3 linked regions of the Homo sapiens genome follow. The protein of the gene in region 2 purifies or fractionates together with the protein of the main gene of each other region. This does not show direct contact. Each region holds a gene or a part of one and is shown on either strand. Other genes may lie near its edges.

The links.
Region 1: the proteins of MOCS1 (region 2) and PI4KB purify together in Homo sapiens (affinity purification with mass spectrometry; one large-scale study listed by BioGRID and IntAct). This does not show direct contact.
Region 3: the proteins of MOCS1 (region 2) and TMF1 purify together in Homo sapiens (affinity purification with mass spectrometry; one large-scale study listed by BioGRID and IntAct). This does not show direct contact.

What each region holds. Positions count from the first base shown.
Region 1 is NC_000001.11:151,310,337-151,313,984, reverse strand, and holds part of PI4KB (phosphatidylinositol 4-kinase beta), read left to right. Parts: intron 1-3,648. UniProt on the Homo sapiens protein: Phosphorylates phosphatidylinositol (PI) in the first committed step in the production of the second messenger inositol-1,4,5,-trisphosphate (PIP). May regulate Golgi disintegration/reorganization during mitosis, possibly via its phosphorylation.
Region 2 is NC_000006.12:39,913,958-39,917,605, reverse strand, and holds part of MOCS1 (molybdenum cofactor biosynthesis protein 1), read left to right. Parts: intron 1-1,373; coding exon 1,374-1,538; intron 1,539-3,648. UniProt on the Homo sapiens protein: Isoform MOCS1A and isoform MOCS1B probably form a complex that catalyzes the conversion of 5'-GTP to cyclic pyranopterin monophosphate (cPMP).
Region 3 is NC_000003.12:69,049,518-69,053,701, reverse strand, and holds the start of TMF1 (TATA element modulatory factor), read left to right. Parts: upstream 1-1,368; 5' UTR 1,369-1,615; coding exon 1,616-1,757; intron 1,758-4,184. UniProt on the Homo sapiens protein: Potential coactivator of the androgen receptor. Mediates STAT3 degradation. May play critical roles in two RAB6-dependent retrograde transport processes: one from endosomes to the Golgi and the other from the Golgi to the ER.

The sequences.
Region 1 (3,648 bases), on a different chromosome or scaffold from region 2:
AGAGACAGGTATTATTTTGCCAGCAAGGAAACTGAGGCTTAGAAAGATTAGATGTTTTGCCCAAGGTCCCTCAACTAGTGAATGTCAGACCAGGACTCAAATCTCCAGCTGGTGCTCATAATCATTCAGCTGAACTACCTTGGTTATTTCTCAATATCTACTTCCCAAGGTCCCCAGCTGTCAGAAGCCATGTGGGGAAGAACGGCCCAGGCTATGGCCATCTGAGCTTCCACATCCATGCACAGGCAAAGCCAAAACTGTTGTCAGAACTAGAATGAACCGTTTTCATATCTGGTTGAGCTTGGCAGCAGAGCCCTGGGTCATGAAGAGAAGTTGCTGCAGAACAAGAAGAGTCATCCAGATTCTAGTGGAACATGAAGGGTTGGATAGCTGTCTCATCTTGGAGTCAAACCTGTAGCAGAGGGTGAGCAGCTGGAAGTGAATTCCTTGGTGCCTCTTGTCAGGCTTGGCTTTTCTCTTTATCCATTTTGTAGTGCTCATCTTAGGACCAGAAAAGCTGAGGCCTCAGGGCTTTTCTTACTCTGCTGATCCTTGGTCCCTCTTTCCTTACATCTAACTCCCACTCCAGGATAAGATTATGGATGGCACTGAGAGGCAGGTATTAGGTGAATACTTACATCATTTAGGGTGGGTTCTGTAGCTGCCGTTCTTCCAACCTGACTCCTTATCTTGGGTCACTAGATCCAGGAGAGGAAGGAGATACTATGTTCCCAGGCACTCCTGCGTTATCTGATACTGACAGAATGAAATACCTGAATTCATTATGGCTCCACAGAAAATGGGAGAGCAAGAAAGAGACAGAAACATGAATATCACTAGGTTTCTAAGCATTAGAGTCGTCAGCACAGGGGTCTCTCCCAGCCCTTTTCCTTCCATCCGTCCTTCCTTCCTTCCTTCCTTCCTTCCTTCCGCCCACCCGTCTGTCTGTCCGTCCGCCCTTTTTCTTGCAACAGGGTCTTGCTCTGTTGCCCAGGCTGGCGTGCAGTGGCACAGTCATAGCTCACTGTAGCCTTTAACTCCTGGGCTCAAGCAATCCTCCCATCTTAGCCTCCCAAGTACCTGGGGCTACAGCTATGTACCACCACACCTGGCTAATTTTTAAAAAATTTTTTTGTAAAGATGAGGTCGTGCTCTATTGCCCAAGCTAGTCTCAAACTCCTGGCTTCAAGTCATCCTCTCGCCTCAGCCTCCCAAGTCACTGGGATTACAGGCATGAGTGACTAGACCCAGCCCCTTTGGCATTTTGAGGATGCGTCTGTCAAGGCTTTTGTCCCCTAAATACCAAAGGAATTGGTTTTCCTTTTACTCATCCTTCTTCCCTTTCATGTAACATTCATTCACTCAACATGTAGTTATTGACTTTGTACAATGTCCAAAGCCGTGAGCTGTGCTGTGGAGGACGGGGGATAAAATGTTATCCTTCCCTCTAGGAACATGTGAAGTAATAATGAAAACCCCAGTATCTATGGAACTGTTTAGTTTGTGACTCTCTTGAAAAAGTTGTTTTCTGCCATAAGCAGGAAGTATACAGCTTACTAAAATGAGGCACATAATTATCTAAGACCTAAGCAGAGATACTCTAGGAGAATCTCTAGGTAGACCCTAACACTCTGCTCCCAGTCTCTTGCTTTTCTTTTAGGTTCTGAGTTTAATACTATGCTCCTACCACCAGTAGAGGGGCTCCCAAGGATGAGGTCGGGCCTCAAAGAAGAGGCTCAGGGGCAGCATGTACAGTTCTCTTCCTGCCCATGGTCTCCCTGCAGAGTTGTTCTCTGCTCAGCTCTCACAGTGTTCTCTTTCTTACTATGAGGAATCCTTTACACTCTCTCCCACAGTCAGAAGGCTTTGTGCTGATTTTTCACATTTTCCACCACTGCTCCTCAAAGCCTGCCGCTTCAAAGCCATTTTATCAGCCTAGTCGGGGAACTCTGCCCAGGCAGTTTGTCCTCCCATTTGTAACCAAATGGCAAATATTTTGGTATAGAATGGGGGAGCTAAAAGGAGAGAGTGATTTAGGTATCACACCCTCCCCGATATGATGACACTGTTAGTAGATTAGCTTTGTCTTTTCAGGACTGCAACCTTTGTACAGAGAAATCTGCCGCATGTCACACTGGAAGCCCCAGTAGGCCTTCTAGCTTGATATGGTGTGATGTCAGCTTCTTGCTTCATCTTTACTCCCCGGAGCTGACTCAGTGTGAGTGACTCAAGCCCAGGGAGTAGGAGAGGAGCAGGTCATGATATACCTCCCTTCCCCCAGGGCTGTCAATGAGTCAGACAGGACCTGTCTGTGACAGAATCAGCTGGAGCGTTGCTCAGGGAGCCAATATCTTGCCTGCTGTTCCTTCTCCAACCAGCTCATAGGTAGAAATAGAACCACTAATTCATAATAGACTCTGACATCCTCACTGCCTTAATTCTCCCACCACCTTCTACCCAAAATGGAAGAGTTGTTGCCTTAGGGGCATGTTTCCAAATGTGGCTTCTCCCTCAAAGTGCTCCAGTCCCCAGATTCTTCAAGGAAGGACCTGACTATAGGACCTCCAGCTAGAATAGAACTGAAACCATGGAATTGAGTTCAAGTGGATGCTTGAATCTACTCAGCAGATTTCAGAGTAGAAACTCACCACTGCCCTCCTGCCCTGGGAGCTCTTAGGACTTTGTCTTTTAAGTCTAACCTCCCCCACCCCGACCTCAACGTCCCCCACAACCTAGATTTGTGCACACGTGCTGCTCTGTTCCCTGCCCTGGTAGACCATGTTGGACAGAACCCAGGATGAGCCCTGTGCATGAGTGTTGCCTCAGAGCTGCTGAGTGAGAGTTTGACACCATCTCTTTCCCCTGTTTTTGCACACGGACACATATGACACAGCAATGGGGTGATGTTTAGATAAATCCTCTGGGCTGGGACTAGGACAGCTGCTATCCAGCTAGTCAGCTTTCTAGATGGATATAGCTAACTCCCCAACTTATATCAAAAATTGTAGTATATTGATTGTCATGTGGATAGCCTGATAGGAAGCCTAAGGAGGTTTGGTAGATAGGAGATTGATTTATCCTTCACTCCCATCAGCATCCAGCCCAGAGATTTTGGGCTTATTGGTCTAGGATGCTCTTTGTCACAGAGGTTCAAGGTTGGGATTCAGCTTCCCAGGGTGATAATGAGGCTAATTAGAGAAGAGGTATACCTGCCACTGAAAGTTTAGCTTTTCTTCCTCCCTGAGGTTTCCAAAAAGCTGGAGGAACATGGGGTTTCCAGTATGGGAGCCATGCAGCTTATTAAGTTCAGTCCTGTGGTGGTCCCCATGGAGAAGGATTTGGTTGAGAGCATGTGAGTGGGTAAAAAAAAAGAGCAGGGAAGCTTGGCAGTGCAGTTACTGCCCTAGGGACCCAGCTTTAGAGCTTTGGCCTAGAAGGAAGATCCATTCAGTTGAGAATAGAAGTGAATAAAGTGAAAAGCAGAGGCTGCTTTGTCTCTTCAGTCCTTCTGACCTTAAAGTCTGAGCTGCCCTTCCAGCATCTCCTACAAGTGGTCAAGCATCTGGGCAAGTAGCATTTCTGAGTTGACTTTCTTTTATTAAAGCAGAAAGGTAGAACTTCACTAGAGAAGCAGTTACGATCCAAGTT
Region 2 (3,648 bases):
TCATCTTAGTGCCTGAGGTCTCTGTTGGCCTGCCCGGCAATGTTGTTTGTGTTGTGTTTCTGTTTGGGTTGCTCCAAGGTTGTGGAGAAGGGGTGTGAGGTACTGCTGAGTGTCACCAGGACTCAGGCCTTGCCCCCGAAATGGTTTGGCTGTGTCCCCACCCAAATCTCTTCTTGAATTGTAGTTCCCATAATCCCCACGTGTCATGGGAGGGACCCAGTAGGAGGTAATTTAATAATGGGGGTGGTTACCCTCATGCTGTTCTCATGATAGTGAGTTTTGACGAGATCTGATGATTTTTATAAGGGGCTTTTCCTGTTTTGCTCAACATTTCTTGCTGCTGCCATGTGAAGAAGGACGTGTTTGCTTCCTCTTCTGCCATGATTGTAAGTTTCCTGAGGCCTCCCTAACCATGCTGAACTGTGAGTCAATGAAACCTCTTTTCTTTATAAATTACCCAGTCTCAGGTATTTCTTTATTAGCAGCATGAGAAGGAACTAATACAGCCCCATGGCTGGCTTAAGTGTCTGCACTGGTGCTTTATCCTTGAGGCAAATGCTTCTGCTGCCTTCCCGTGCCGACAGGGAAGGATGAGGCCAACCTGTCCAGCTCCTTCAAATATAACTCCCCTCTTAGACAACCTCCCTGACATGTAGTAGGACCCCTCTGCTCCTGTACATGTGACTACTAAGCTGCGTGCACACTAGTCACTCCCTGTTTTTACAGAACCTTCTCCTGGGTGCACTTTGAGCTGTGGTCTCTATCCGTCTGGTCGGTTCCATCTGCTTTCTCTCTTTCAGTACTAATTTACCTTTCTGGGCTATCTACGGCATTCTTTCTTACCTTCCAATGCTATTATGGATTTTTAAAATCCTTCCATTATTTCTAGGGATATTTGGTAGAATGGAGCTGTCAAATAGCACTTAATTCAAACACTTTTGTTTCCATTATACAGAGTATCAAGACCTGTGTAGTACTTGGTTGTTAAGAGCAGAGTCCTGAGTCAAGTACACATGGATTTAAATGCCAGCTCTTCTTACTGTGTGAGATTAAGCAATTTTCATAATCTTTCAGAGCACCTCTTTCCTTACCTACTAAATGAGATAATTGTTATTGTGAGGCTTCAATGAGCTAATGTATGCAAAGCCCTCAGCAGAGCACCTAGCACAGAGCACTCAATGCTTAATCTTTTGGTTGTTTTTGTCAGTTTTGATTCTTAGCTTTCTTTTTAAGTTAGGCCTGGTTAATATAGGTCTGCAGAGAGCCTCTTTTCCATCCATCTTGTCTGGACAAAGAGTTTTGCCTTCCAGCCCTTTTCCCGGCCTCACCAAGAACAAGCAAGCAGTCTGACCCCCTTTCTGTTGTCCTTACAGCCCAGCTCCAGCGGCTGGAAGGGCTGAGAACCATAGGTGTTACCACCAATGGCATCAACCTGGCCCGGCTACTGCCCCAGCTTCAGAAGGCTGGTCTCAGTGCCATCAACATCAGCCTGGACACCCTGGTGCCTGCCAAGTTTGAGTTCATTGTCCGCAGGAAAGGTGAGCGGATGTGGATGGGGTGGGTGTCCCTCCCAGGGCCTGCACATAGCTGGGGAGGGCATGGCCATTGCTGAGCCAGGGGCCTGGTCACTTCCTCTTGGTGTCTGGGCTATCAGTAAGTCAAAGCACTTATTTCTCACCCCTCATCTTTGCCAAATGTATGTCAGGGACTTTGGGGGTCAGACGCTAATGACCTAGGGTGACCAACCTCCCCACCACCCCAGCCCCAGTTTGCCCAGGACTTGAGGGGGTTTTAGAATGAAGGACTTGAAGTTTTAAAACCAAGACAGTCTGTGGCAAACTGGGCCGAGTTGGTCATTCTACGATGAGCTCTGAAGAAACACGGGACAGCCCAGGGTGGAAGTAGCCACCCTGGGATGCCAGGGTCTGGGTGTATGCTGCCAGGAGGGGGTCCCCCAGCAGGCCCCCATGGTTATCCCTGTGCCCACCTGGGTATAAGCCCCTCCTATGCACCTCCTACTACAGGCACAGCCATACCCTCCACTCACCTGCCTCAGGAGGCCCAAGGTAGACAGGTGGAGCCAGCCTCGAGCTCTGGGTCACAGGAGACCAGTGCCTGGCTTCCCTTTGGCATGGACCTCATGTTGGGGCAAAGGCTCTTCAGGTTGGGATACCCTTTGATATTTGGGAGGGGGTACATGACTGAGGACTCTGGAGGATCAGAGGGGTGGCAGGGAGACCCAGATCTCCTTCCTCTTCCTTGGAAACAGCTTCAAGATCAGCCCCACCACCTTCTTTCCTTCCTTTTCTTAAACGGGGTGTGATGCCTTGCTTAATACCCTCCATGTGCTGAGGAAGCACTCATGGTGTCTCTTTCCTCTATGGAGGCCTGCTCCAGGTGCTGTGGAGGGGACAGAAGACACATAAGACATTGCCCTGTCCTTACAGGCTGCTAAGGGCCAAAAGATGTCATTCCATGGGACAGCCTTTGCTTGTCTTGTGGTACTGATTAAAGAGTTACAGAGAGGAAGAAAGAACTCTTAGCAGGAGAGAACTAGGAGGGCTTCAAGGAGGATGCATGCATGCTGGCCTTGAGGAACTGGAGGGTTTCAATCAATGGCACATACTCTGAGGGGGAGCAGGAGTACAGAACCTGCAAGGGCTCTACGGTGGGAAAGTGGGAGGTGGATCTGTGGGCTGTACTGCCCGCAAACACGTTCTCCCTTTTTGTCTCTTATTTCCTGGCACATGGATTGGAGACATCAGATCTTCCCTCCCATTCATACTCTTTTGTCCACCACCTGCCTTTGGAGGGGAGTGTTTTACAGAAAAGAAAACTTATAGTTCTAGGTTATCCTAGCAGCATTATTTTTTTCAAAGCTATACATTTTTCCCTTTACCCTCTCACTGAGCAGTCTGAAAATGCTGCAAGGAAACCATGGAGGCCATCTCTAGGCACCCTGTCTCACAGGTGACCACCCAGGCTGTGCAGGCTGGGGGTGCTGGAGGGGGCCAGGATGCAGTAGGTGATCAAGTGATTGGATGCATGAGAGAACTGGGCAGTGAGAAGTCAGCCTGGGGTCACATTGACTGTGGTTAATGATTGTTGAGACAATAATTGCTTACCAGCCCTGGAACAGCACCTGTGCGTAGTAGGTGCTCAGAGAGTATGTGTTGAGTGAATAATTGATGGACTGTTGAGGAAAAAACACTGAAACGGGAGTGGAAAACCTGCATTCTGAAAGATGGAGCCATGGGGCTTTGAGCAGAGCATTGCCTCACTCTGGGTCTTGGTTTCCTCCCGTAGACTACAAGAGGGTTCAACTAGATCCAGGGTCAGCATGCTATGGCCCACAGGCCACATCTAGCCCCCTGCCTGTTTTCATGTAGCCTTTGAGCCAAGAATGCATTTTACAGATAGCATTCAAAATCAGTTAATGATAGGGAACATTAACTATGAACCCCATTTAAGCAAAATATTGTCCCTGCAAAAAGAATCGCATTATTGTATCCCATTTGTAGATCTGTTTTACAAGACACTGTAGTCAGTTATTACTATTACATTTTGAATTTAGCCAACACTTTGTGACATGTACTTACACGGATCCTCAATTTTGCCTCTTGGCTTGCAAAGCCTACGATATTACTC
Region 3 (4,184 bases), on a different chromosome or scaffold from region 2:
TGGTACTACTTGTGTACATGACTAAATTGTTAGTTTTAACATGCAAGTTTTTACTGTAGTTAGATAAAATTATTGGAAGATGATTATAACTTCTTAAGGGGTTCAATCTGATTTTTTAAAAGAAAAATAATTCTTTTTTGCAGAGTTCCTTGCAGTGGGGTAAAATATTCAAATATGGGAGGCAGGCATATAAGGTAAATAATCACAGCAGGGAGGGTGTAATAGGATGAGTGATAGGGGTCTGTGGCAAACTGGAGTGAGTGAAAATTATTTGGTGACCACTCTGGCTGACTATTCCCATGCTTGGTATTCATATTTTTCAAAAGCAGCTGGAAATCTAGATTTTTGAATGAAATCTGGCTTTTAGTTAGGATTTTGTCTTTAACTTGGGCCCAAACCAAATATAGCTGCAGACTGGATTAGGAAGGCCACCAATTTAAGGTATTTTCCCATGTCCAAATGTTCGAAGAGAATGCACACAGAAAAGGTTATGTTTTAAGTAATATGCACAGTGCACATTGTTAGGATAACAGCTTTAGTGCTTCCTAGGTGTCTTAGTCCATTTGGACTGCTGTAACAAATTGCCATAAACTGGGTGGCTTATAAGCAGTAGCAATTTGTTTCTTAACAGTTCTAGAGGCTGAGAAGTCCAAGATAAGGAGCCGGCAGATTTGGTGTCTGGTGAGGGCTGCTATTCTGGCTTAGAGTTGGTGCCTTCTTGCCGTGAGCTCCCTTGGGCCTCTCTTATAAGGGCACTAACCCCATTTATGAGGGCTCCATCATCATCTAATCATCTCCTAAAGGCTCCCCTTAATACTGTCCCATTGGAGATTAGGTTTCAACATAGGAATTTGTGCAGGGGACACCGACAGACCACAGTATTAGGGGTATTTTGACTGCAGCAATGAGTTTACTACTATTTTGAGAGAGAGGTTGTGCTTTATGCACCATGTGTTCCACGAGTTGGACACAGTGTTCATACGTGATCCTGTCTTTTAGGCAAGCCCAAACAAGTGTTTCTCCTTACAATACCAAGTTAATACAGAGCTTATTAAATATTTGAGACAAAGGGCTAAGAGAAGTGTGAGGCCCAATTTCCCTTTGCAATTATTGCTGGCAAGGTGCAAGCTTTTAGCACGTGAACTATTTTCCTGGAAAGCACACACACGAAAACTTGAATATTCCTTCCGGGGAAATCGACCTCTATCGGTAGCCATAGCTTCCCCTTCGCTAAGAACTGCTGTAAGCACGAAATCGACATCAATAGAAACCCTTCCGCGTTCCTCGGTAACTAACGGCAACCCTGCGCTCCCGGATGTGACGTCAACGTTCTTCTGTTCTTCCGTCTGTCGACCGAACTCTGGGCTCGTAGATTTGGTTGCTGTGTACGTGGAAGAAGCAAGCGCATGCGCACATGGGCCCCCTTCGTCTCAGCTGTGCGGGAACGGCCGAGGGTAACATCCCGGGCTCGCGGGAGGCTGTCGGGGTAATGGCCACACGCTGACAGAACCAGCCGAGTGGAAAAGGGGAGCGAAGCCGTTCCTCTGCACCCTTCCCCAGGCCTGAGGCCTTCCCGCTTGGTGCTGCCGCCGCCACTGCCGGCTGAGGAGGGGCGATGAGTTGGTTCAACGCCTCCCAGCTCTCCAGCTTCGCTAAGCAGGCCCTGTCCCAGGCCCAGAAGTCTATTGACAGGGTTCTGGACATCCAGGAAGAGGAGCCGAGCATCTGGGCCGAGACCATTCCGTATGGAGAGCCGGGTAAGAGAGAGAGGAGCGGGGTTCCTGGCTCCCGGAGGCTGCTGTTCTCTTGATGCAGGCAGGTTAAGTGGTGTAGAGAGGGGTCCTTCCTTGCTGAGAGAGTTTTCAGGAAGTAATTTCTCCCCGGCCCGTTCCCTAATGCTGCTTCAGCCTCCAAGTCGGTCTTTGCTGTTTTCCTGAGGGAAAACCCAGATCCAGGTTCCCCCTTGTCTTTCTTTGGTCCTGGGTGCGAGGCTTGTGGACTTGGATGACAGGGGACTTGGTTGGTTGGTCTTGCCCTCAAGCTCTCCCTCGACGCAGCTTCCAAGCACAACCTTCCCGAACCTGAACCTCGAATTGCTTCGCGTCTCGGGCACTGTTGGGATCCAAGGTCTGAAGTACGTAAATCATCAGGGAAGGGAAGAACAATCGCTAACAGTCAGTGAACATTTCGCGCTTGGTAGCGCGTAATGTGGTTTTATGTTGTTGTTGAGACGGAGTCTCACTCCGTCGCCCAGGCTGGAGTGCAGTGGCGCGATCTCGGCTCACTGCAACCTCCGCCTCCCAGGTTCTAGCGATTCTCCTTCCCCAGCCTCCCTAGTAGCTGGGATTACAGGCGCCCACCACCACGCCCGGCAACTTTTTGTATTTTTAGTAGGGACGGGGTTTCACTATGTTGGCCAGGCTGGTGGAACTCCTGACTTAAGGCGATCCACCCACCTCGGCCTCCTAAAGTGCTGGGATTACAGGCACGAGCCTGTAATGTGCTTTTTTATGGCCTTCTCATCTTCAGAACAACTCCCAGAGAGAGCTTGGTTTATATCCGTGTTTTACATAAGAGGAAAATGAGGCCCAGAATGGCCAAGTAACTTGCTCTAGGTCACACGGCGGAGGAGGATTAGAATGTGCCGGAGGTATTAGCCGGAAAATGTGTGACCCAAGATTTCTGGATGGTATCACATTTTATTTCTGAATAGCCAAGTCTCTCTTTGCAGTTTCATTGAGCTTAATCTTTCAGGGATCTTCATTCAGTTGCTTTTGACTCTTAAGTCTAAGGAACAGTTCAGCATTTGATGTGTGGGGTAAAGATTTGCTGGTGTTGGGGGATGTGAACCTTTGTGTGAAAAAGGATAAGAGATGTACTTGACTACTCCTTTCTGGTTTCTGTTCTTAATTTTACATCATTGAAAAGTCAGGACCTAAATTTGAGGTACCTCAGTTTAAGATATTTTGGTCCATGTGTGTATGTGATGATCCTCTTTACTTTTTACAAGATGTCATATAACCTTGCTGGAGTAACTCTGTTTTTTCATATGTGCCCCAGTTAATTAGAATTACTAAACTTTAGATAAGATAGAATATAGGTTTTACATATAAGGATATTTGTTTTCGGAAAATGCCCATAGTCTTCAGAATGGTATAATTTAGATGGATACCAAATAACCCTGGGATTATATAAAGTATTCTCCAAGAGGCAAAATTAATTCCTGTCATCTTTTGAATGTATTTAAATTAATCAGACATAATCTTGGTTGTTCATTTGCATATTTAATTTTGATTTTCTCTGGTTTGGATATTGTGCAAATGAATGTGTAGAACTATGCCTCCAAACTGAAGTTTTCTACATACTTTTCATCCTAACTGCCTTTGAAGTCATACATATATTTACATATATATATATTTGTTTTTTTGTTTTTTTTTTTTTTGAGACACAGTCTCACTCTGTCATCCAGGCTGGAGTGCAGTGGTGCCATCTCTGTTCACTGCAGATTCTGTCTCCTGAGCTCAAGTGATTCTCGTGCCTCAACCTCCCGAGTAGCTGGGATTGCAGGTTTGCGTCACCACACCTGCCTAATTTTTGTAATTTTAGTAGAGACAGGGTTTTACCATGTTGGCCAGGCTGGTCTTGAACTCCTGACCTCAGGTGGTCCGCCCGCCTCGGCCTCCCAAAGTGCTGAGATTACAAGCGTGAGCCACTGCGCCTGGCCTGAAGTCATATTAAAGGATAGATTCTACTATAAGGCTTGATAGTTTTTAGAAGCTTTTAGTTACTTGTGCTCTCTCCACCAACTTCTAATTGTGAATATTTTGTGAATATTTTGTTCAGCCACATTTTAATTTGAAAAAGAAAACATTTTTAAAGAAATGCTTTAAATACTTTAACGAATATACCATTTTTAAGATCCTGATTATGCCATTTTTAAAAATCAGGATTTTAGTAGTAGCTATTTGTATGACTGATATGATAATTAACTTTTTCCCCAAGAAAACAGTCATTTTCTTTGTAGCGCTTTTTTAAAAACCCTAGTGTCAACCACCTCTATGTCAAAGAGCAATAGTTCTTAAAAAAACACACATTTCTGAAATTTATAATGACCTTGTAATTTCTGACATAATTTAGAATTTGAGAACAAAACTTCCTCTTAGAGTGGGCTTGGAGAGTGGGAT